Regions from separate parts of the Homo sapiens genome. Here region 2 is linked to region 1. Evidence: fine-mapped expression QTL. A gene starts in region 1. The other region holds a variant in brackets. All regions are shown on one strand. Distances are between the middles of the regions.

What was found.
Region 2: its variant is fine-mapped to the expression of LPCAT1 in lymphoblastoid cells (TwinsUK, PIP 0.95).

Annotation. Positions count from the first base shown.
Region 1 is chr5:1,519,296-1,535,211 of GRCh38, reverse strand. LPCAT1 (lysophosphatidylcholine acyltransferase 1) reads left to right here and starts at 11,252. Exons shown (of 14, transcript NM_024830.5): 1 at 11,252-11,502. The coding sequence starts at 11,368. RefSeq lists a cis regulatory region at 9,860-10,095, silencers at 10,865-11,264, 11,285-11,594, 11,865-12,064 and an enhancer at 13,225-13,729.
Region 2 is chr5:1,489,396-1,497,395 of GRCh38, reverse strand. It overlaps LPCAT1 (lysophosphatidylcholine acyltransferase 1), which reads left to right. Exons shown (of 14, transcript NM_024830.5): 3 at 2,482-2,696; 4 at 7,538-7,650. LOC124901162 (a long non-coding RNA gene) reads right to left here and starts at 7,865. Exons shown (of 2, transcript XR_007059103.1): 1 at 4,723-7,865; 2 at 1,877-3,924. RefSeq lists an enhancer at 2,260-3,459. The variant G/A (reference allele first, on the strand shown) is at 3,072.

The DNA.
Region 1 (15,916 bases):
AAAAAACAGACTTCAAAACGTAGTGTATTACCAGAAATAGAGATATTTCATAATGTTAAAAGGCTCAACTCATCAGAAAGACATAATTAAATATGTGTGTACCTAATAACAGAGCTTCAAATCACCAAAAGCAAAGGTAAAAAGAAAAAAGAATTAGGAGAAGTAAACCATATCGCAATATGAACAACACATCAGTAAAGACAATCAGAGAAAAATATCAGTTAAAAATAGAAGACATGACATCATTATCCACAAGCTTGAGCTAATTGACATTTATAAAACACTACACCTGACAGATGCAGAATATACGTTCTCCACAAGTTCACAAAAATTTTTAAGTACCATTTTCAGTAGCACAAAATGTTAAATATTTAATGATAAATCTGACAAAAGATGGGTAAGATTTACACATTGGAAAATACAAAACATTGTTGAGAGAAATTAAAGAAAGCCTAGATGAACTGAGAGATGTACCATGACAGGGGGTCAAAAGACTCAATATTGTCAAGATGTTATTTCTCCCAAAATTTGTGCGCGGTGCCAACATAATCTCAAAATTGCAGAATTTTTTCTGTAGTAATTGACAAACTGATTCTAAGATTCATATGGAAATCAAAAGGACCTCAAAAAACTGGAACAACTTTCAAAAAGAAAAACTAAGGTTAAGAACTAATGTCACCGGATCTTAAGACATATTATAAAACTACAGTAGTCAAGACTTGCATCCAAATGAATAAATAGGTCAATGCAATGAATAGTCAGCCCAGAAACAGAAGCACACAGATGTGGTCAATCAATTTTTCACCAAGCTGCAAAGGCAATTCAGTGGAGAAGGGATAGTCTTACAACAAATGATATGGAACAATTCTACATCTATAGGTAAAAAAATAAAAATAAAAAACTCGTATCTATACCTCATACCATGTAAAAATTAACTCACAATGGATTATAGACCTAATTATAAAATATAAACTATAAAACTTCTTGAAGAAAACAAGAGAAACTATTCATAACCTTGAATTAAGCAGAGATATTTTTAGATATAACATCAAAAGCATGATTGTTTTTTAAAAAGGTAAATTGAACATAAAAAATTAAAAACTTCTCTTTGAGAAATATTGTTAAAACAATGAAAAAGCAGCCACAGAATGGTACAAAATATTTGCAAATCACTTATCTTATAAAGAAATTGTATTCACAATATATAAAAACTCTCTAGACCCATTAATAATAAAACAAAGAAAAATACTGTAATGAGAAAAATATTTGAACACATCAGGAAGATTTGTGGATGATAAATGAGCACATGCACAGATGTTCTAGGTCATTGTTCAAAGGGAAAGCAAATTAAAATCATAACGAGACGCCACTGCATATGTATTGGAATGCCTAAAACCTAAAAGTCTTACCATACTAAGTGTAGGCAAAAATATGTAAGAACTGAAACTCTCATACACAGTCTGGGTTGGGGGATGTAAAATGGTCCAACCCCTGTGGACAAGAGTTTGAACGTTTCTTTCAAAATGTATCACCCAGCTTCCCACTGATAAGTATTTATCCAACAAAAATGAAAGCCATACATCCATACCAAGACTTGTACTCAAATGCTCACAGCATCTTTATTTGTAATAGTTCCAAACTAGAAACAACCCAAATATTTATCAACAGGAGAATGGATAAACAAATATCCATACAATGGAATACTATTCAGCAATAAAAACAAGTAAATGATTGATAAAAACAAAAAAAAAAGGTGAACCTCAAATAGTTATGCTGAGTGAAATAATTGGAACCAAAGAAGAAACTGTATGATTTTATTTGTATAAAATTTCAGAAAATGCAAACTAACTTACAGCAACAGAAAGTAGAACAGGGGTTGCCTGAGGATGAAATGTGTAGGGGTGGGATGTAGGGATTACAAAAGGGAGTGAAAAAGCTTTTGGGAATAATAACTATGTTTCCTATCTTAAATACAGTGGCAATTTCATAGGGTGTGTGTGTGTGTGTGTGTGTGTGTGTGTACATATATATGTGTGTATATATAAAAACAGCAAAATGTCCACTTTAAATTTATGTGGTTTATTATATATCAATTATAATTCAATAAAGTCATGATAAAAAGGAAATAATGACTATTAGTTTTCTAAATTTTATTAAAAGTATAAACCCATAAATCAAAGAAGCTCAGTGATTTCTCACACACAGGTACATCATAACTGATTTGCAGGAAAACAGTAATAAAGACAAAATTTCAAAAGCAAATAAATATACAAACAAAATAAAAACTTGTTGAGTTAGAATTCTATATTTATCAGGGGAAAAATCCTACAAAACGAAGGTAAAATAAAAAAGTTTTTTATACAGATCAAATCCAAAAGATTAGTTGCAAACAGCTCTGCACTGCAAAAAAATTAGTAAAATTTCTTCAGAAGGCAGAAAAGTGATACAAGAAGGAAACTCAAATCTCAAGAGAGCAATGAAAGTGCTTGAAATGGCAAACATACAGATAAATACAAAAACCTCTTAATTTTTTTAAAATCGCTTGAAAAGACTTTGTTCAAGACAAAAAAATTATATATTGTGGGGCCTACAGCATATATAAGAGTGAAATGTATGAAAGCACTAGCTTAAAGGATGAAAAGGGAAGTGGAAGTGTAATACTGCAAAGGTCTTCAATTATATGTGAAGCAGTGTATTATTTAAAATGTCTTCCAATAATACACATATTAATAGCAGATACTAAAAAGTTAAAACAAAGAGGTATAGCTGATGAGCCAATGGTGGAGATAAAATACTAAATTAATCTAGAAGACTGCAGTTAAAGAGTAAACCAAAAGACCAGATAAGACAACAGAAAACAAATAGCAAGGTTGTATATTTAAATCTAACCATATTAACACATCAAATATGGATGATCTAAACATGCCTATTAAAAGACAAAGATTTTAAGATTAGATAATAAAGCAAGATCCAACTCTATGCTGTATACAAGAAACCTTCTTCAAATATAAAGCCACAGAAAGATTAAAAGGATGGAAAAATATGCCACGCAAACACTAAACATAAGAAATCTGGAGTGACTATGTGAATATCAGACAAAGTGGACTTCAGAACAAGAAATGTTACCAGAGGCTGGGCGCAGTGGCTCACACCTGTAATCCCAGCACTTTGGGAGGCTGAGGCAGGTGGATCACAAGGTCAGGAGTTCAAGATCAGCCTGACCAACATGGTGAAACTCCACCTCTACTAAAAATACAAAAATTAGCTGGGCATGGTGGTGCGCACCTGTAATCCCAGCTACTCGGGAGGCTGAGGCAGGAGAATCACTTGAAGCCAGGAGGTGGAGGTTGCAGTAAGCCGAGATTGTGCCACTGCACTCCAGCCTGGGCGATAGACTGACTCTGTCCCAAAAAAAAAAAGAAAAGAAAAAAAAAAAAAAGAAATGTTACCAGAGTAAAAGAGAGACATAACATAATGATGGAAAGGTTGATTCACCAGGAAGACAGAATAATTTCAAATATATATGTACCTAATAACATAGCTTCAAAATATACGAAGCAAAGACTAACAGTATTGAAAGGTGAAATAAACAAATCCACAATTATAGTTGGTCTTTCAGTCATTCATATAACAGTAACAGAAAAGCACAAAGATACAGGAAGCTTGAACAAAACTATCAACCAATGGAGTCAACTGGCATTCATAGAACACTCCACACAAAAACAAGAGAACCTTTTCTTATAATATACACCTGAACAGTCATAAACACAGACTATAAAAGGATTGAAATCATACAGAGTATGTATTGTGACCACAAATAAGTTATAATAAAAATTAACTGGAAATTCTCCAAATATTTGGAAGTTAACACATAACAAAAAAGCCACAGTAATCAAAGAAGAAACCACATGGGAAAAGAGAAAGTACATTGAAAACTGAAAGAAAATGAAAAATCAGCATGCCACCATTTGTGGAATGTAGATATGGCAGAACTTAGAAGGAAATTTGTGGTATTACATGAGGCAGGTCTAAAATCAATGGTCTATACTTCCTACTTAGGGAAGTAGGAACAGAAGAGCAAATTAAACCTAAAATAAGGAGAGAAAAGAAAATGATAAAGACAGAAATCAACAAAAATAGAAAACAGAAAAATAATAGGAAAAAATCAATGAATTCAAAAGGCAGCTATTTCTAAAGATCAATAACAAAATACACCTCTAGCCAAAGTGATCAAGAAAAAGGAAGAAGACACAAATTACCAATATTATAAACGTGAACAAGGGCTATCAGTCTAGATCCTATAGATATTAAAAGGATAAAAGGGATTATGATAAACAATTTTATGCCAATAAATCAATAACTTAGATAAAACGGACAAATTCCTGGAAATATCTAAATTACTAAAAAAATTTAGGTTTTTAGATGGAAGAAATAGAAAAGATGAATAACACCTATCTAATGAAGCACTCAAATTCATAATCTTTAAATCTTTCTGAAAAAGAAAATTCTCATTCCAGATAGCTTCCCTGATGAACTCTAACAAACATTTAAGGAAGATATAATACCAACCCTACTCACTCTTTACTTAGAAATAGAGAATTTGGAATACTTCCTAACTCATGTTTTAAAGACAGTATTATCCTCATTAGAAATCAGGCAAAGACATTATAAGAAAGGGAAACTACGGCCAATATTTCTTATGAACATAGACACAAACATCTTTAACATAAATTTATCAATTTAAATTCGGTAATAAATCAATCGTGTAGTATGGTTAAGTGAGGCCTATCCAGAAAAACAAGGTTGGTTTAAAATCAGAATATGAACCAATTCAATTCACCATATTCACAGGATTAAGAAGAAAATTTTAAGATAATCTCAATAGACGCGAGCAAGCTTTTTGGCCAAAATGATAAAAACTACTCAGTAAACTAGCAATAGAAGGGAACACCCTCATCCTTTTTCAGGGCATCTGTGAAAACCCACAGCTCATGTCAAGACTGGGCACTGGGTACTAACAATCCCCAAGATTGTTAACAAGACAAGATGCCCAGTCTCAGCACTCTGTCCAACATTCTGTAGAGGATGTCACAGTCAGTGGAACAAGAGGAAATGCAAACAACGAAAGGCATACGTGTTGCTGGTGAAGGAAGAAATAAAGCTCCTTATTTACAGGTATTATGATTGTGAAATGGGGAAAATCCTAAAGAATCTACAAAAAAAGTCACTAGAACTAATAAATGAATTTAGCAAGGTTAATGCCTACAAAGTAAATACATAAAATCAGTTGTAGTTCTATATACGAGCAACACACTTCTGGAAATTGAAATTAAGAAGCAGTATCATTTATAACAGCATCAAAACATGAAATAGGAACAGAATTCGAAAACCTATGTAAGACCTATGCAGTGAAAATTATAAAACATTGCTGAGGGAAATTAAAGAAAACCTAAATAAATGATCTGTATACCATGCTCATGGATGGATAACTCAATATTGCTAAGATGGCAATTTTCCCAAATTGATCAATAGATTCAACACAATCTCATTAAAAATCCCACCAACCTTTTGTTTGTTTGTTCCTGGATACTTCAGTTTCTTGACAAAATGATTCTAAAATTTTGGCTGGGCATGGTGGCTCACACCTGTCATCCCAGCACTTTGGGAGGCCAAGGCGGGCAGATTACCTGAGGTCAGGAGTTCGAGACCAGCCTGGCCAACATGGTGAAACCCCGTCTCTACTAAAAAATATAAAAATTAGCTGGGCGTGCTGGTGCATGCCTGTAGTCCCAGCTACTCCGAAGGCTGAGACAGGAGAATCGCTTGAACTCAGGAGGCGGAGTCTGCAGTGAGCCGAGATCGGGCCACTGCACTCCAGTGCAGTGCAGTCTAATTTCAAGACTAATATAAAGCTTTAGTAATCAGTATAGTGTGATGTTGGCAGTTGCAGATGTACAGATCCATGGAACAAAATACAGAGTCCAGGAATAGACTCAACTATACATATATGGCCACTTAATTTTTTTACAAAGTTGTCAAGGTAGTTCAATGGAGAAAGAATATTCTCTTCAACAAATGGTGCCGAAACAGTTGAATATTCAGACGAAAACATTTGAAACTAAAAAACCTCTGCCTCCACTTTACTTTATGCCGTGTACAAATGTCAACTTGAAATGGAATACAGACCTAAATGGTAAAGCCAAAACTGTAAAACTTCTGAAGTAAGAAAATCTGAATGACCTTGATGCAGGTAAATATTTATAAAAGAGGATACCAAAACCATGATCCCTAAAAGAAAACGCTGATAAATTGGACTTCATCAAAATTTAAAATATCTGCTCTTTGAAAGACACTATCACTGCTTAACAAACCATCTCAGTCTGTAGTGACTGAAAACCACCACAATTTTCTGTTTGTCATGATTGTGGGTTGAATAGGAAGTCCATCCATTGTACATGATGGAGTCCCTCACTCTGGGGCTGTGCACTCCTCATCTGGAACATCCACAGGTCCTCTTGTACCCTGGGGTCTGTCTTCATACAACCTCTACACAAGCAGTAGTGGTTCTCCATATAATCCATACTGTCAAGAGTAATTTTTTTTTTTGAAAGAGAGTCTCGCTCTGTTCTTGCCCAGGCTGGAGTACAGTGGCGTGATCTTGGCTCACTGCAACCTCTGTCTCCCAGGTTCAAGCAATCCTCCTGCCTCAGCCTCCCGGGTAGCTGGGACTACAGGCGTGTGCCACCACACCTGGCTAATTGTCATATTTTTAGTAGAGATGGGGTTTTGCCATGTTGGCCAGGCTGGTCTCGAACTCCTGACCTCAGATGATCCGCCCACCTCGGCGTCCCAAAGTGCTGAGATTACAGGCATGAGCCACCGCGCCCGGCCCAAGAGTAATTTTTGAAACGATTATTACATCACTGCAGAAGTATGAAGCATCAAGGAATTAACAAAAATACAGAATCTTTATGTAGAAAAATTTAAAATGCTATCAAAGGGCATGAAAGAACATCTAAATAAATGGTAGAATAACCATGTTGGTGAAAAATCGTTCTCAAAATTATAAAGTGTCCATGCCACATCATCCATTTAAAAAATTTTTTTTTTGTATTTTCTAGTGCTTTGAAGCCTTGGAGCCTTGGAGCCTTGCTGGCCCTTCGAGGGCCCCTCCCAGGACCAGCCAGCTCTTACTGAAGTAACATTCTTAGGGAACAGGGAGAATGAACAGTAAGAATGAAGTAACATTCTTACTGAAGTACCCTGTACAATTAATGTGATTCAAAAGGAAGCTTCCAGCGGGAATTTTTAGCAATGGGGACAACTGCTTCCAAAATTTGGATGGAAAAATAAAATTCCCTGAATTCCTACTACAATTCTTGGGAAGAAGCGCCAACAGGAAGGAACCCCCTCTACAGTTACTAAGGCAGACGGTTGAAAGGTGTGAGACAGGAGTAAAGGAGTACGCGGACCGGCGGGTGAGACGGGAGTAAAGGAGTACACGGACCAATGGGTGAGATGGGGCAGCCAGAAGGAGCTTCAGGAACCCTTCTTTCTGTTCATGCTGGAAGTGGACCCACAAGTGGGAGTCTGTGATTGATACGTGGTGTTGAGAATATCAGGTCTCCATGCAGAGAAAAAAATCTTCAAATAGAATAAAATGCAACCATGAAAGGCAGAACTGAAAAAAGATGTTAGTAGAAAATGAAGGAGAATATCTTTTTCTATCCTATAGATAACTCTAAAATTCAAAAATTAAACAAACAAAACAAAAATACTCAGCCTTACCAGAACAAGCAGGTACCTTGTGTTCTCAATGCACTTGGAGTATAGGAAACACTTCTCTGTGAGCTTACACTCTTAAAACAGAGACAAAACCAGAGCAAGAAGCCTCAGGGGTGTGGTTACCAGCCCCAGGGAGCTGTGGGGGGCTTCCAGGAGGTTCCTGAGAACCACAGTGGGGGCTCCCTTTGTAGCTAAAGGGCCCTTAGGGTGGTTTTCCCAAAACTAAGTCCTAATGAGAAACTCATGTTTCCCCTGCTAGACAGAGAAAACTGCTTATACCTCCCCACCCAAGACCAACTTCTCTTAGTCAAGCTTCCAGACCCTCCAGGTCTTAAGAACGTTCCATTACATAGCAGAACCAAAGCCTAAGTGTGAAGGCCCAGTGTGGGTGGAGGAATTTCCTTGCTGCTCCTCCACGCTTGCGCTGATTTCCCCATAAGCAGCCCCTCTCCCCCACCCCTCGCAGTCCCCAGGAGAAAACTGACTCCCACACACAAGAGTGCCCCAGCTCCCCACCCCCTGGGCACGTGCCCTGTGGACCATCCAACCCCTTCCAGCTGCAGCAGAGAAGGAGTCCCCGCTCCGGGCCCCAGGCCTTTCCTTCCTCTGAGCGCAGAATCCTTCCAGACTGAGATGGGCCCATGACACCCCCTCTCACAGGGGTTTTCAACGTCTCCTGTGAGGCTGGCCTGTTGCCTTCCACCCAGGAACATGTCCTGGGCCCCTTCCTTGAGCTGCTGCCCTGGATCCCAGCCTCCCGCCAAGCATCCATTTTCCTCCTCCTGCCCATCACGCTTCCTCCTTTCTCAGGTAGCTGGGAAAGAACCTCTGTAACTCCTGCCCACTCCACAGCACCCTGCAGGGTGGTGGTCTCCACCCTTGCTACTACCACTGGCTGGCCTTCCCAGTTCTCTCCTGGCCAGTCCTCCTGGATGGGGCAGTTCCGTGGACTCAGCCCCTCTGGGGACCTCCGCTCCTTGGCCGCTCTCTGGGGCCTTCTTGGGTTCTGCTTGGTGAGGACGAGTGTGCCCCAGTCCTGCCCCCTGCTCTGCACAGCCCTTGGCCCTGTCACACCCACCCTCCCAGCTGTGCCCCCTTGTGTACTGACCCCGGAGCTGGGCCTCTGCGCCTCCTCCACATGGTGCCTGTGACCCAAGGATCCACTGAGCTTCTACACCAAGGCCACGCTGCCCACAGTGGCTCCACCTAAGACCCCTCTGGGAGAGGGACTCCTCTTTCCACCGACCTTGGCTCAAGGACAACCTGCTGACCCTGCTTAGATTGCCGGGCAGTATGAGGTTCTTCCCCCAGCCTCCCCACCTCCTTCCCTGGGTTCCAACTCACTTTGCACTCTGCAGGTTAAAGCAGAAGGAATTTATTCTCTCCCAGTCTGGAGGCCAGAAGCCTGCGATCATGGCACCCTAGGCCTAGGCTCCCTCTGAGAGCACTAGAGAGGACCTGCTCCAGGCCTCTCCAGCTCCTGGGAACTGCTTGCCTGTAGCAGCAGAACCCTGGCCTTCCCATGGAGCTCTCTCTGTGTCTGTCTCTGAGACCGAATCTCCCTCTCTATAGGGACACAAGCCATTTCAGACTAGGGCCCACCCTAATGACTTCCTCTTAACCTGATCATCTGCAAAGACCCTGTTTCCAAATAAGGTCGCGGCCACAGGTGCTGTGGGTTAGGACTTTTGCATCTTCTGGGGACACAGCCATGACTCTCTGGCAGCTCTCCCCATTGAATCTGGCTCTGCACCATCTCCAGCAGGTTTCCCCTCCGCCACACACCGCTTCCTGGCCTGTGCTTCTGGGAGGACCCCACTTTCATGGCTCTCCAAGTCCAGTCCTGAGGCTGCTCTCATCCCAGGACTGGGACACCCTAGGGCCCCTCCTCTCCAGAGCACTCAGGCAGCAGGTGGGGCCGCCTGGATCGCTGGGGTGCAGGTGCTGCCCTGTGGCTGGCAGGCTTTGTGTCCTGGGCTTTCTTGATGATCAGTTCGGTGAGGAGCCTTGGGTGGCCTCGGGTGCTGGGCTCTGGTTTTGGGGATCAGAGCAAGTGGCCACTAAAAGCCCAGGAGGTGGGTGCAACGCTGGTGGCTGGGCCACAGAGCCACCAATGCCCACCAGCACACAGGGCTCACCCCATCCCCGTGGGTGTGGCACTTGGGACAGGTGCTGCTGCTAGGCATGGGCTGGGACTCTTATGGGGCAGGAATATGGGCTGGGACTCTTATGGGGCAGGAATAAGGCCATGCAGCGGGTCTGGCCTGCCGGGGCCTTCTCTGTGCATGATATGTGGATGGCACAGACCCCTGGCCCTCACCCCGGTCTCAGACACAGAAGGGTCTCTGCCAGCCCGCTGCACTATGAGGTCCACAAGGGCGCAGGCAGGGTCATTGGAGGGGTCGGGGCACTCCCTGGCGTCTGCTGAGGATGGGGCCCAGCTGGGGCCAACACAGCAGTGACATCCCCAGGAGCCAGGACCCTGGGGGGTTGGCCAGGTGGCCCAAACCGGCTCTGTCTGGGTGAGGTCCGTTGGCCATGAAGGAACCAACAGGGCCAGCCGGGGTGAGGAAGCCGTGAGCACTGTGACCGAAGGCCTGCGTGAGTTCTGAAATCCAAGCGTGTTCACCCGGAGGCAGGAGCCCATCCTACTCTCGCTCCGGCTAATTATGGGCCCCACCCTGGGGCTCCTCACACGGCTCCTGAGCACCACAAGGGCAATGCCCGAGCCAAAGCAGCTACGGGTGAGAAAGCGCTGGGATCTCATCGCAGCCCCTGCACAACCAGCACGGACAGTCAGGGCCCCTATGTGCGCCTCCTGCCTGGGCCATCCCTGCGGGGCCTGAGGCCTGAGAGGTCCTGAGATCGGAGGGGTCCTGAGGTCTGAGGGGGTCCTGAGGCTTGAGGGGTCCTGAGATCTGAGGGGATCCCGAGGTCTGGGGGGTCCTAAGGTCGAGTGGACCTCAGGCGGGAGTCGCCTGGGCTGAGGCGCGGCTGGAAGAAGCTCCCTCAGCCCGGGGCAGCTTCCAGGGTCGCCGGTGCGAGCTAGGAGCCCAACGAATAAGAAGAATGGCGTGGGGCCTTCGCCGGAACAGCCCGGGGCTCGGCACCCAGGGCCTGGCCCGCCTTGCGCGTAAGCTGGACGCGTGCCCGCCCCTTCCTCCCTCCCCGCGAGCAGGCGGGCCGAGCGGCGGAAGGGGACGACGTGGCAGCCTCGCGGGCCCGGGGGACCTCCCTTTCTCCTGGCGCAGACCCTGCCGGGGATCCCTGTGCTCCAGTGGCTGCAGGAGGCGCCCCCGGTCCCCAGCGGCCCCGGCCCCCCACAGACCCCAGAGAAACCACCAGGTAGCGGAACTCCGGCTGGTGCCGCCCCTGCCGGCCGGCGGGAGGCGAGGCTTCCAGGGACGCCCCGCCCCGGCCGGCGCTCCCGCTCCGCCCACGTCACCTCCCGCGCCTGCGCGCCCGGCCCGCTCCAGCCGCCGCGCATCCTCGGCCCGCGCCCCGAGACCCGCGCCCAGCTAGCCCCGGCCCCGCTCGGCGCCCCAGGCAGCTCGGCTGCGCTCGCCGCGGGACGGCGCGGCCATGAGGCTGCGGGGATGCGGACCCCGGGCCGCCCCTGCCTCCAGCGCAGGGGCCAGCGACGCTCGGCTGCTGGCGCCCCCGGGGCGGAACCCCTTCGTGCACGAGCTGCGCCTCAGCGCCCTGCAGAAGGCCCAGGTGGGTGCCCAGGGCGCGCGGCCCCGGGAGCCGGCGCGGACGCCAGGGATGCTGGGGCCAGGGAGGCGCGGCCGAGGAGGGGCCGGGGAGGGGGCCTGGGGCGCGGCGCGGCCCTGCGAGCCGCGGCGCCTTCCCTCCCCGCGGCCGCCCCTCAGTTCGCGTCCCCGCCGCCCGCACCCGATGCCTCGGTCTCGGCGCCGGCTTCCCGCCGCCCGCACGCGCATCCTGGTCCCTCAGCGCCTTCCTCGGGGTCCCCGCTTCCCATCCCCGCCCCGCGTTCTGCTCCTCCCCCCAGACCCCTGCACCCTGAACCGGGCCCACAACCCTTTCTCTGCCTCCCAGAGCCCCGACCTCGGCTCCCGCGGGAGGCTGGACCCGCATCGCCGGTCCCCGCGCTCGTCCCTGGTCCGGGCCCCGCCCGCCTTGGCAGGCCCTGCGCGCAGCCCGGGGACTCCGGAGCGGCTTTGCCTGGACGCGGCCCGCGGGCGGGAGGGCACCGCGGCTCTGGGTGAGCCTCGTGTGCGGGGCCTGGTGGTGCCCGGGACAGGGCGCGCGGGCGGTGCGGGTCCCCTGTAGGGTCCCCTGTAGGCGCACGGGTCTCCCTGCTCTGCGGCCGCACGTTGCCTTCTGGGGTGCATGCTTCGCTCCTGTTGTAAGGGATGCTTTCTCGGGGCTGGTCTGACCCGAATCAACTTTATGCAACCTGGGCTGCCACGTGGGAGGGAACGGTTTGCTGAGATCCTGCGATGGGACAGTGGTGAGGGGAGACCCGGGGGCGTCGTGGGGAGGGGGCCGCTCGCTGCAGGAAGCTGCACCGGGGATGTGCTGGCTCAGCCTGGCTTTTCCGGCTACCTGGCTGCCAGCTGGGCTTACAGTTACCTGAGATCCACTCTCAAGAGGACCTTACTTTTGACTCTAGAATAATTCCTAGAAGCAAGCACTGTTTCGGGGCCTATGGGGCTGTCCGGTTTGTAGGGAGCACGCTTCCAATTGTGAGAATAGATTTCCGGGAAGATGGAGATTTGTTAATGCATAAAGTACTTTATCTGAAAGAACCCTGAAGTGAAAAGTTCTTGAGGCCAGTTTGAGCTTGTCATTTTCCCAGGACGCCTGCTTTTGCTCAAAGCCCCTTGATGCGGCTGGTCCTCAGGGTATGGAAGGGGACGGGGAGCAGGAGAGCCCGATGGTGCCGCCCCTCCTGGTGACACACAGGGTGAGGTCGTCCCCAGCCTGGCTCCCAGGCCCTGGCCCCCGTCTCCCTGTGTGTCGGGAGCTGGACTCTGGGGCTGGGGCGGTGCCGGCCCCTCTGCCGCCGCTCTGCCTGGCCCTCTGTCTGCCACACGCTGTCAGCTGCCGTGTGCTGTGCCCCTCAAAGGAGGACTTGGGACACGGTCGCTCATTCTGTGCCCCTCAACCATTCCTCCTCTTCAATCCTCACCCCCACCCAGCCACCAGGCTCTCTCCCTGGTCACTCTCCCTGAGTCACTCCCAGCAGGCTTTCTTCCTCCTGCACTCTGCTGCTCGGAAGCCCTCAGCGGGGACGCCCCCGGATGAAATTCGAACCCCTGCTGTGGTTTCCAGGGCTTCCCCAGCCCTGCTCCTGCCCCAGCTATGGCTGCCTCAGGCATGCTCTCTCTTCCTGCCTTTCCTACTCCCTCCTGGCTCCCTGGGGGGAAACATCAAGCCCCTCCCTGGAGGTCCCCGGAGGCCACTTCGTCATCCCTGTCATAGTTGCAGCCCCCGGTTGAGGTGTGTTCTGTCCAAAAGTGTGCACCCACTGCCCTGGCGAGAAGCAGGGCAGAGACTCTCATGGGTAGGTACAGATGTCAGGGCACTGCCAGAGTGCCCAGAGGGGCCTGCTTTCCTCCCCGAGACCTCAGGGTGCAAGCTGCTCCCAGTGGCTCTTGGGCAGGGGGTCATCGAGAGGCTCCTGGTCCCGAGATTGAAGGCTTTGGGCAGCTGTTCTCCCTTGGGCCGAAGCCAGGCAGAGATCCTGGCTTGAGGTGTTGGGGCCTCTCAGAGAGGGGGCTTGCTTTGTTGCCACTTCAGAGGTTCCATCTGAGGAATTAGGTGTGTTTGTACATCCAGTCGTTTCTGCTGGATGTCTGCAATGTGTGGCTCAAGGGTTTAGTTTGTAAACGTTCTCAAAGTTCTCTGCAGAAACATTTTGCTTTTCACCAAGCATTGCTTTGCAAAGCTTTTACTTTGATGTGATATATTCTTGTAAAGTTTCCACAGAGTGAAATAGCCTGTCTTTCAAGCCAAGAAAGCCTTCTTCCCCAAAGAAAGAAATGGGTCCAGTAGTGGCTGACACACTCAAGAACCCGCAGAAACCCAGCTAAGTTCCCAGTTGAGATAAACCAGTGAGTACCTGCATTTACCTGTGAGCATTTGCCGCCTGGGAGGGGCTGCTGTGTGTCTTCGGATTAGCGCCATGCGGGGACACCTCCTCCTCCAGCCAGCCCATCTGTCATTTAACTACAGATTTAGTGAGGAGCTTAAGTATCTCTTTGGACAGAAAACAGCACATTAAGATCTGAAAAGAGGTATCAAAGCCATCAGGGTCTGTAATACGTGCAATGTTTTAATCCTCTGGCTAAAGCAAGGATATAGATTTAGTAGAGAGCGGTAAATGGTATGGTACAGGATCTTAGTGAGTTCAGCTGAGGTTCTTCATAGTCACACATTCATATATCGTTTTGGAGTCATGAAGTGGTTTCTGTCACCCAGGGTTTTCTCGGTACTTTCCTTGGAATCTGTGGGTATGAGTATTTCCCACTATGGTTCTGATGCGTTTTCCCCATTTCTTTTTTTTTTCTTTTTCTTTTTCTTTTTTTTTTTTTTTTTTTGAGACAGTCTCTCTCTGTCGCCCAGGCTGGAGTGCAGAGGTGCGATATCGGCTCACTACAAGCTCTGCTTCCCGGGTTCACGCCATTCTCCTGCCTCAGCCTCCCGAGTAGCTGGGACTACAGGCGCCCGCCACAATGCCCGGCTAATTTTTTTTTGTATTTTTAGTAGAGATGGGGTCTCACCGTGTTAGCCAGGATGGTCTCGATCTCCTGACCTTGTGATCCTCCCGCCTCGGCCTCCCAAAGTGCTGGGATTACAGGCGTGAACCACCGCGCCCGGCCCATTTTCCCCATTTCTAAAGTCTCTGCTGCTCGGAACCAGAGTTGGCAAGAACTTACATCCTGGAAAGCATAATGCCTTCCTGTGCACCTTGGAGCTGAGTCCTTGGACGGGCGTTGCTGTCTCAGAGTGGAGGAGGCTGCTGGGTGCCCGCCTGCCCACGCTGGCTAATCCACAGAGAGGATTATGATGAGGGTTGAGTCCAGGGACAGATTCTGCCCCTCCCTGCCTGGTGGCCCTGCATAGAATTTACCCAAAAGTGGGCCATCTTTTTCTCCACATTTTTATACAAATACCTGAGTTGTGATTTTTTAAAAAAACTCAGGAGCAGGACTCCGCCCTCTCAGCCTCGCTCCTGAGTCCAGCATGGCCACTGCAGAACAGGAATTCGTGTGCCTGCACACGTTGCCAGGCTCCTCACGTGGATGGCTGTGTTTGCAGTGTGTTCTTGACCCTTGGTGCCCTCCAGGCACACATGCACGGGGATGGGGGTTCCTCAGGCTTCTCTGAGCTGCTCCTGCTGCCCACTGGGTCCCTGGGTGCTGCCTGCCTGGATTCAGTAAGACTGGCTCTTCGCTCAGCCCCATTGCCGGGCAGTGGATGTGGAGGGGTGGGGTGGGCCAAGGAGCCCTGGGCAGTGTACCCGGTGGGAGCACAGGGCAGCCACACCCTGTGGAGGATGTGCAGGAGAGTGCCTGTCCCTTGGGGAGGATGGAGAAGGCCAGGGCTGTACAGGGCCTGCTGTCTCCCTGGATGCCTCAGAGGCCTTGGAGACGGTGCCAGGCCCATGGCCCCCAGCTGCCTTCTGATGACCTGGGTGTGATGGTGCCAACTGTTTTGGCCCAGTAGAGGCCCAAGCGTCATTTTCCCGTGTCCTCGCCTCTGGTCACTGTCATCCTTTGCCCCAGGAAGCACAGGTGAGGACACAGAGGCCCAGCTGCTGTGCCGTCTCCCAGGCAGGGAGGGCAGCGTGGGCTGGCTTAGCATGGATGCCTGCCCTCACCTCACAAGGAGCCCTGACCTTAGGGAACTGGCTTTTTTCTCAAAGTCATCGAGAGCGTTCCTGTAATCCTGTCTAATTTTCCGAATGAATTTTCCGAATGACGCACTCGTGAAACTTAGTTGTGGTTAACTTTGCAAAATGGGAAGGGGGGTTCAAAATCGGAAAAGACTTTACTTTTCATTTTTTATAGCATTCTGTCCTAAAACTTGGGTTTCTAATATGAGTGTGTGTATGAGAATATGTGTGTACACACATGCATACACATATACATAAGTGCATACA
Region 2 (8,000 bases), 34 kb after region 1:
TGCAGAGCCGGGGCCTGCGCCTGCCCCTCACGCTTAGACGTGTGGGCTTCCCCCACCCACCTCCACATGCCAGCTGGCTTGAGGAGATGCAGGCCTCAGCGGCCTTCCTCCTTTTCCCCCTGCATGTTCTGGGAGATTTCCTCCTCCTCATTTCCCAGTCTTTCCTGTGAGTTGCTTGTCTCCACAGTGACAGTCTTGGTTTCTGAGAGTGTTTTCTTGTTCTTTGATGCTCCTCAGCGCCCTGTTCTTCCAGACTCTCTTGGCGAGCGTGGTGGATGTTTTGCACCCCTCTTCTGATGCCCACCCTTTCTGTCTCCTTGGGGTCAGTCCTCTGCTTCTCTGCCATGCAGCTGCTCTGCTCACACGTCTCAGGATTCTTGGGTGTCGTCCGTGTGAGGGCGGTAGGACGGAGTGGATTTCCTGGGGGTGCTGATGGAGATCCCCGCTCCTGTGTATGCAGATAGATCTGTCTCCTGATTCACATTCCCCTGGGAATGGGCTGCCCAGGCACCTGAGCACCCTGGGCTTGTGCTGGCTCCCTTTGCCTTGGGGTGAGTGGGTGCTGGGTCCCCAACCCCACAGCAAGCGGAGCTTTTCTCTGAGGCTGTCATCCACACCAGCAGTCCGGGTTTTCACATGTGGATAGTTTGGGTATAAAATTCCTCCAAGATCTTTAGAGAAGAGCTGAGGCTGCTTTTTCCCTGCCCCGACACCCAGTACAGTTCCCCTGAGCACCGTCTGTCCCTGCAATTCGATTTCGGGGCTGGCAGGTGTGTTCCTCTAAGGGCCGCCCGGGTTTTAATCCCTTTTTTCCTGCTGTCCTCTCTCCTGCCCCTGAACCTGCCCGAGACTGGCTCCTGTGCCCGCCGCAGCCTCCTCTGCAGCCTCGCTTCTCCCTCCGCCGCTGCCTTGTTTCTTCCATCTTAGGCATCAATTGCTGTCTTTTGGCTTTTGTTTTTGTACTTTTTTTTTTTTTTTGTGGAAAATAACATGTGCACAGAAGAGTACATCTTTATTTTTTAGTTTAGTTTTCTTGAGATGGAGTCTCACTCTGTTGCCCAGGCTGGAGTGCAGTGGCGCAATCTCGGCTCACTGCAACCTCCGCCCCTTGGGTTCAAGCAGTTCTCCTGCCTCAGCCTCCTGAGTGGCTGGGATTACAGACGCCTGCCACCATGCCCAGCTAATTTTTGTATTTTTAGTAGAGACAGGGTTTCACCATGTTGGCCAGGCTGGTCTTGAGCTCCTGACCTCAAGTGATCCACCTGCCTTGGCCTCCCAAAGTGCTGTGATTACAGGCGTGAGCCACCATGCCTGGCCAGAAAAGTACATTTTTAAATATGCAGCTGAACAGGTGGTGAAGAAGTGCACACCTGTGTAATCCCCCCTCCTCTAGACAAGCAGCACCCTGGGTTGGTCCCCAGCATCTCCATGTGTAACTACACCATTGTTTATCATCGCATACACAAAGGCCATTCCAAGGTGGCCCCACGAGAGGAGGCTTTGTGCCCTCCTAGCAACCGCCTTGGCTCAGATCCATGGGGACCCCTGTCCTGGAAGTCTTCTGGGAGGATCATCTGTCCCAGGGCAATGTGAATCCAGTAAGGCTTCAGGCTCTTGTTTCTCTGTGCAGTAGTTTTACCCAGTGTGATGCGCCCACTTAACCCAGTGGCCGAGTGAGCCGTGGCTTCTCATGAGGCTGAATCATGTTCTCTGTGTGCCTGACCTGTGGCTTCTCACACACCGTGGCTGTCTGCTGCGTGTCAATTCCCTGAGGTGTGGAATAACAGCCTAATCTGTAGCCTCATATGAAAGAGAATACACACATTTAAAAGGCTAAATTTGTACCTATTTTAAAAAGAGATAAAGAGTACACAAATTCAGTTAACCTAGGCTGATTTTTACTTTATTTTCCAAATTTATTGGCCATCTAATTTCCTCCAGAAACAGCTCACTGTAATAACACAACGCCTGGTTGTGGGAACCCCGGGCTTCCTGTGGAGATGAGATGGGGAAGTTCGCACGCAGGTCTCAGCTTCCGCCCTCAGCTCTGAGCGCCCCCCCCCCCATATTGCGATATGCGTTTTAGGTGTTTTAATGTTTTTCCCATTTCAAAATGATAGGATGCTGATAAATAAGTTGCTAACATGAAGGTCCGGAGGTCTTCTGGCCTGGGACTTGTGCTGTCTGTGTTCCGGAGTCTCATGTTGTCTTAGCACTGCCTGCCGCGTGGCCCGTGACCACCACACAGGGCCCCGCGGCCTCCTTCGTAGGTGAGAGCGCAGCCAGCGAGGACACAGGCGGAGGCCAGGAAGGCGCGGCGTCTTTTCTTCCCTCAAGCAGATGTCCCAGCGGCGGCGACCACAGGAAGCCCGTGGCCTGGACTGCGCCCTGGAGGGCTCTCCCGTGGGACCGCCCCTGTGCCTCACACAGACTCCGAGACTGCGGACGTGTGCCCGCGTGACGCAGCGCCCTCTTTTGCAGGGTTGTGGACTTCCTGCTGAAGGCCATCATGCGCACCATGTGGTTCGCCGGCGGCTTCCACCGGGTGGCCGTGAAGGGGCGGCAGGCGCTGCCCACCGAGGCGGCCATCCTCACGCTCGCGCCTCACTCGTCCTACTTCGACGCCATCCCTGTGACCATGACGATGTCCTCCATCGTGATGAAGGCAGAGAGCAGAGACATCCCGATCTGGGGAAGTGAGTGAGACACCCCTGCTGGGAGTGAGGGACCCTGCCCTGCTGGGAGTGAGAGATCCCCCTGCTGCTGAGAATAAGAGATTCCCCTCCTGCTGGGAGTGAGGGTCCCCCCTCTGTTGGGAATGAGTGAGACCCCCTCTGTTGCTGGCAATGAGGGACTCCCTGCTGGTTTTTAGGGACCCCCCCTTCTGGGAATGAGAGATCCCTCCCTGCTAGGAATGAGGGACCCCCACTTGCTGGAAATGAGTGAGACCCTCCCTACCGGGAGTGAGGGACCCCCCCCCCACCACGCTGCTGGGAGTGATCGAGCCCCCACCGCCGGGCACATTGGCCTTGTGCCCCATTTTCTGTGTTGGGGTTTCCTGTGTAATTTTC[G/A]TTGTTGTAATTGTTATTTTTATTGCTACCTGAGTGCCCTCACTATCATAACAGGCTACAGTGCTTGCTCCAGGTCTGCTTGGCAAGGGTGGCTCACCTTTATCAGATGGCAGTTCTGGAAGTCTTTGGGAGCAGGTCGGCAGGGCTGCCCATGCACCGCGGCTGTGCCGTGAACCAGGGACCTGAGCACCTGGTGCTGCCATGACCCCTCCCCAAAGCCGGGGGCTCACTCCAGCAGAGATTCACCCTCTCGTCATCTGGGGACCAGATGTTCAAAATCAAGGCGTCTCTGGGCCGAAGGCCCTGTGCGGCCCCTTCCTGCCTCTTCCTCCTCTGGGGGCTGCGTCCCTCTGACTCTGCCTCAGTGGTCGACTGGCCTGGCTCCCTCCAAGTGTCTCCTCTATGAGTCTCTTATAAGGACCAGTCATTGGGTGATCCAGGATGCTCTCATCTTGAGATCCTTAACGAGTTACCTCTGTAAAAACCTTTTTCCAAATAAGGCCTCATTCACAGGTTCCAGGGTCAGCATGTGGACCCATCTTTGGGGGCCGCATCCCATGGACCCACTGCTCTGGGAGGACTGTAGGGAGCCCTGCGTGGCCCCTCACCCACCTGTGCGCAGCCCTGACCCACCAGAGCTCTGTCCTCGGTGCTCTTCAGGGCATCTGGGCCCGTTCTGTCCTCGTGCTTCCTTCACAGCCGCCATCAGCACAGCACAGCACGTTCTGGGGCACAGCGGGTCCTGGGTTGGCAGTGGGCGGTGCTGAGGGAAGGAGCTGCTGGGACGAGGGGCGTCGCCTATGGCCGGGGCCCTCACCTGGCCACTCCTGCCGGCTCTGTTTCCATGCAGCACCTAACGTTAGCATTCATATGACAGTTTTCTAGAAAATATCTGGGGGGACACATTCAGTATGGACTGGGTGGGGACACATTCTGTGGTGCTGACCACTGAGGGTGGTGGCCACAGCTGGGATAGGAAGGCTGGAAGTGGGGTGAGGAACCCTGGCATGGCCCATGGGGGATTGGGCCTGCAGCAGCCGGAAGGTGTCCAGACTGTGCCTGCAGCTGGGCAGTTGTGGGTGGCCTGAGTCTGCCTGGGTCAGGCTTGGAAATCGGGGATGGTCCTTGGTGGGACTGGAGGGCTCACTGCACTCGGCTGGCTGGGGAAGCCTGGAGGAGGCTGGACAGGCCGGCACTGGAGGCGAGACTGGACTGCAGGCACCATCCGAGTGATGGCCTTGGCTCTCACACGCAGGTTTCCCCGCTCTGCAAGCTCCACAGGCTCATGGGGCAGCCCCAGCTCCACTCAGCACCCTTTGCATCCTGTGGTTCTGGCATACCCAGGAAACCACATTTGCCCCCCCACTGTGGCAAAGGCCCATGGTCGTTCGTCATCTGCTCAGGGAGGGGGATTGTGGAGCTGTGTGCCCAGGCACCCTCGCAGCTGCAGGGGTCCTTGGACAGGGGGGCTGGCCCACCCAGAGTGAATCTGAGCGTTGGCCGGGCTCTCCCTGTGCCCTTGGTGCCTCCCTGTGGAGATCACCAACACGAAGGAGTGTTTGGTGCGGTGATGCTGGACGTTGTAGTCCTATCTTTCTAGAGGCCCGGGATTCCACCTCTTCCAGATCAACCCAGGTGACCCAGCACTGACCTTCATCTCGGCGCAGCAGGAAGAATGGCCACAGCCATGCTGCTGTGTGCAGGGCCCTCGTGGAGCCCTGCGTGTTTCTTGTCATTTCAGAGATAATCCACGGACCTGCGAGGGAGAGGATAGTGACAAGCTTATCAGAAATTTTCGTTAGAATTCAGACTTAGCAGGAACCACATTTTGCTCCCTGCTGTCCTGGCCTGAAAGGGCCATTGTCCTGGGGCGTGGCTGATGACTCCTCTACTGCGCACCTGGAGCACCCTCTGATTCGGGAGCTCAGAACCATCTCCCCAGGCTCCAGCTCAAAACCATCTCCCCAGGTCCCAGCTCAGAGACGTCTCCCCAGGCCCCAGCTCAGAGACGTCTCCCCAGGCCCCAGCTCAGAGACATCTCCCCAGGCCCCAGCTCAGAGACATCTCCCCAGGCTCCAGCTCAGAGACATCTCCCCTTGTCCCAGCTCAGAGATAATCTTCCCCCATCCCAGCTCAGAGACATCTCCCAGGTTTCCAGCTCAGAGACATCTCCCGTGGTCCCAGCTCAGAGATAATCTCCCCTGGTCCCAGCTCAGAGACATCTCCCTGGTTTCCAGCTCAGAGACATCTCCCATGGTCCCAGCTCAGAGACATCTCCCTGGTTTCCAGCTCAGAGACATCTCCCCTGGTCCCAGCTCAGAGACGTCTCCCAGGTTTCCAGCTCAGAGACATCTCCCCGGTCCCAGCTTGTGGTGACTTCTGGTTCCTTTCGTGGACCCTTTGACAGCTCACAACTTTGTTGAAGAGATGAATGTTGAAAATGTTCAAAATATTTTCATTTTTAGATGTATGAATACCAATGAAAGTGATCAACCAGGTAGATTTTTTCCTTTTCACATTCTTAGTTTCCTTTCAGTGACCTTCATATCCGCACCATCCATTTACAAACCTTGTCAAGGAAAGTTTGAGCCTCAAATGCCCAAAAGACGGCAGAACGCTGTCACCTTCTTGCTGGCAAAATGCGCCAGTCCCAGTGTGGCTGTGCACACGGCGTGGTGACACCCTTCCCTCCTCAGGGCTCCCGGGGAGGAGCTGCATCTCCTTGCTGTCCTCACTGCCCAGTTCTCAGCGTGAAAGGCACACCGGGCAACCCACATGAAGACGCACGGCCCAAGACTTCACTCAGAGTCCTCCCCCTGCACCCCCCACATTTACCCCCGGACCCATCTGAGTGTGAAACGCCCCCACGTCACTGTTCTGTTCTTTGCCGTTATAGACAACTTCTGAAATCTCTACTCTGTTCACAAAACAAACCAGCTGACAGGATTGCGAAGGTGGCAGGGTGGCATCTCCAGACCCCGTGTGCCCCGGGACGACCATGGGACGCTTTGGCCAAAACAGTGGGCACCGAAAGACCACGCAATCAGGGCCATTTCTTTGACGCGTGCGCCATCCTGCGAGACGACTCCGCCATTCTTCCCTTCCGATATCGTCCTTTTTAGCAGAGTTGGGAATAACCAATGAGCAAGGATGAAATAGTACTGGAATCGTGAAAAAGCAAAATGATTCAAGACATAGGAAAGACCACAGAGACCCAACAGACAACCACAGGATAGAAGGAATTTTCTTTTTTTGGCTTCAATTTTCTCGTTCTTGGAGGAGAGAACCTCCAAGAAAGAATAAAAGTCATGAAATGCTACTCCTTACAAGTAATAAAAACGCTAAGAAAAGAAACTGGAAACTGAACTGGGGTGGGGAGGTGGGGCTGACCTGCAGCAGCCTAGGAGCCCGTGGTGGGGTCAGAGACACCTTCAGTTGGCCTGGGGGGCGCCGAGTGTGGATCCTGCTCACCGTCCTCAAAAAGGAAGCTCCACTCAGGGATAGTTTCATTTTAAAGTCTTCAGAGTTTTCTCTTCTAAGAAGTATGTTTCCACGTTCAATCCTCTTGCATAAAGACAGGTGCCGTGGCCACGTTGCCTTGGCTGAGCACCAGCCTTCATGGCGGGGTGTCCCTTGTACCCCAACCCCGCAACTTCCAGGAGGCTGTGGGGTGCCATGGTTAAACTGGGGCTGTGCTACAAAGCACCACAAAGCTGGTGGCTTAGAACAACAGGAGCATATTCTCCCGCCGTCTAAAAGCAGAAGTGCCAGAACAAAGTGCTGGCCGCATTGGGCTCTTCTGAAAGCTCCCTCGGCCCTCCCGGCTCGTGGTGGGGGCTGTGGCCACATCCTCCTATGGCCTCCTTCATCATTGGCCTTCTCTCCCCCTCTTCGTCTCCTCTTCCCATAGGGACCCTCATCTGGGATTTTAGCTTGAGCATCTGCTTTGTCTCCTCTTCCCATAGGGACCCTCATCCGGGACCTTGAGCATCTGCTACCACCTGTTTCGAAATGAGGTCCCATTCCCGGTACCAGGAGTGAGGACTTCAGCTTGTCTTTTAGGGGATGCAGTTCAACCCACAGGGGGAAGGCGGGGTCCAATCTAGGGACCTGGCACCTTCAACCCTGTCCTCTGTGAAGACTGGGTCTAAAGACTTTCTGCTTCCTGGCGGTTGTCTTTCATTGACCTCCGTTCTGTGCTCCGTGTCCTCAGTGGGTGCCATGGACTTGCTGTTTGTTACTTGTGGCACTGAGGCTACAGGGCTTCCTGCTGTCACAGACATGGGAAGCCCGGGTGCTGTTCCCGTTCCCTCAGTCAGGGACTCACAGCCCACCCATGGCACAGCCCCTGGGGCATCTGGAGTCTCCCGCCCCACTGGGCGCCATGCAGCAGCCCCCTCGTTCCTCAGCCCTGCCTGGCGGGAGCCGTGCATTCCACGTGATCCGTCTCCCCTCCTCTCTTCCAGCTCTGATCCAGTATATACGGCCTGTGTTCGTGTCCCGGTCAGACCAGGATTCTCGCAGGAAAACAGTAGAAGAAATCAAGAGACGGGCGCAGTCCAACGGAAAGTGGCCACAGGTAATGCACGTAGCCCTGATTGTGTTTCAGTGGTTTTATTCCGAAAGATGCGAACTTCGCGAGTGGGGAGAAAGAAACTGGGGCCCTTCCTCCGGGGCTGGATTCTGATTCTCTTCTCCTAGTGAGTGCGTGAACTCAGGAGGGTGCTGTCAGGTGCATTTGGTTTCGGTGCCCGAAATTTAAAGTTAAAGTAAAGAAAAACAATTCTCAAATGCATCTCAGCTTCCTGAATCATCTTTTCTGAACTAAGTTCTGACTCAGATAGAGCATTGCTCACCCGCCCTCCTGGTGCAGTGTGATTTTGGAGTTGATGTGTCAGCCTGCTGTGTGTTGGGTGGTTCTAAAAGTCC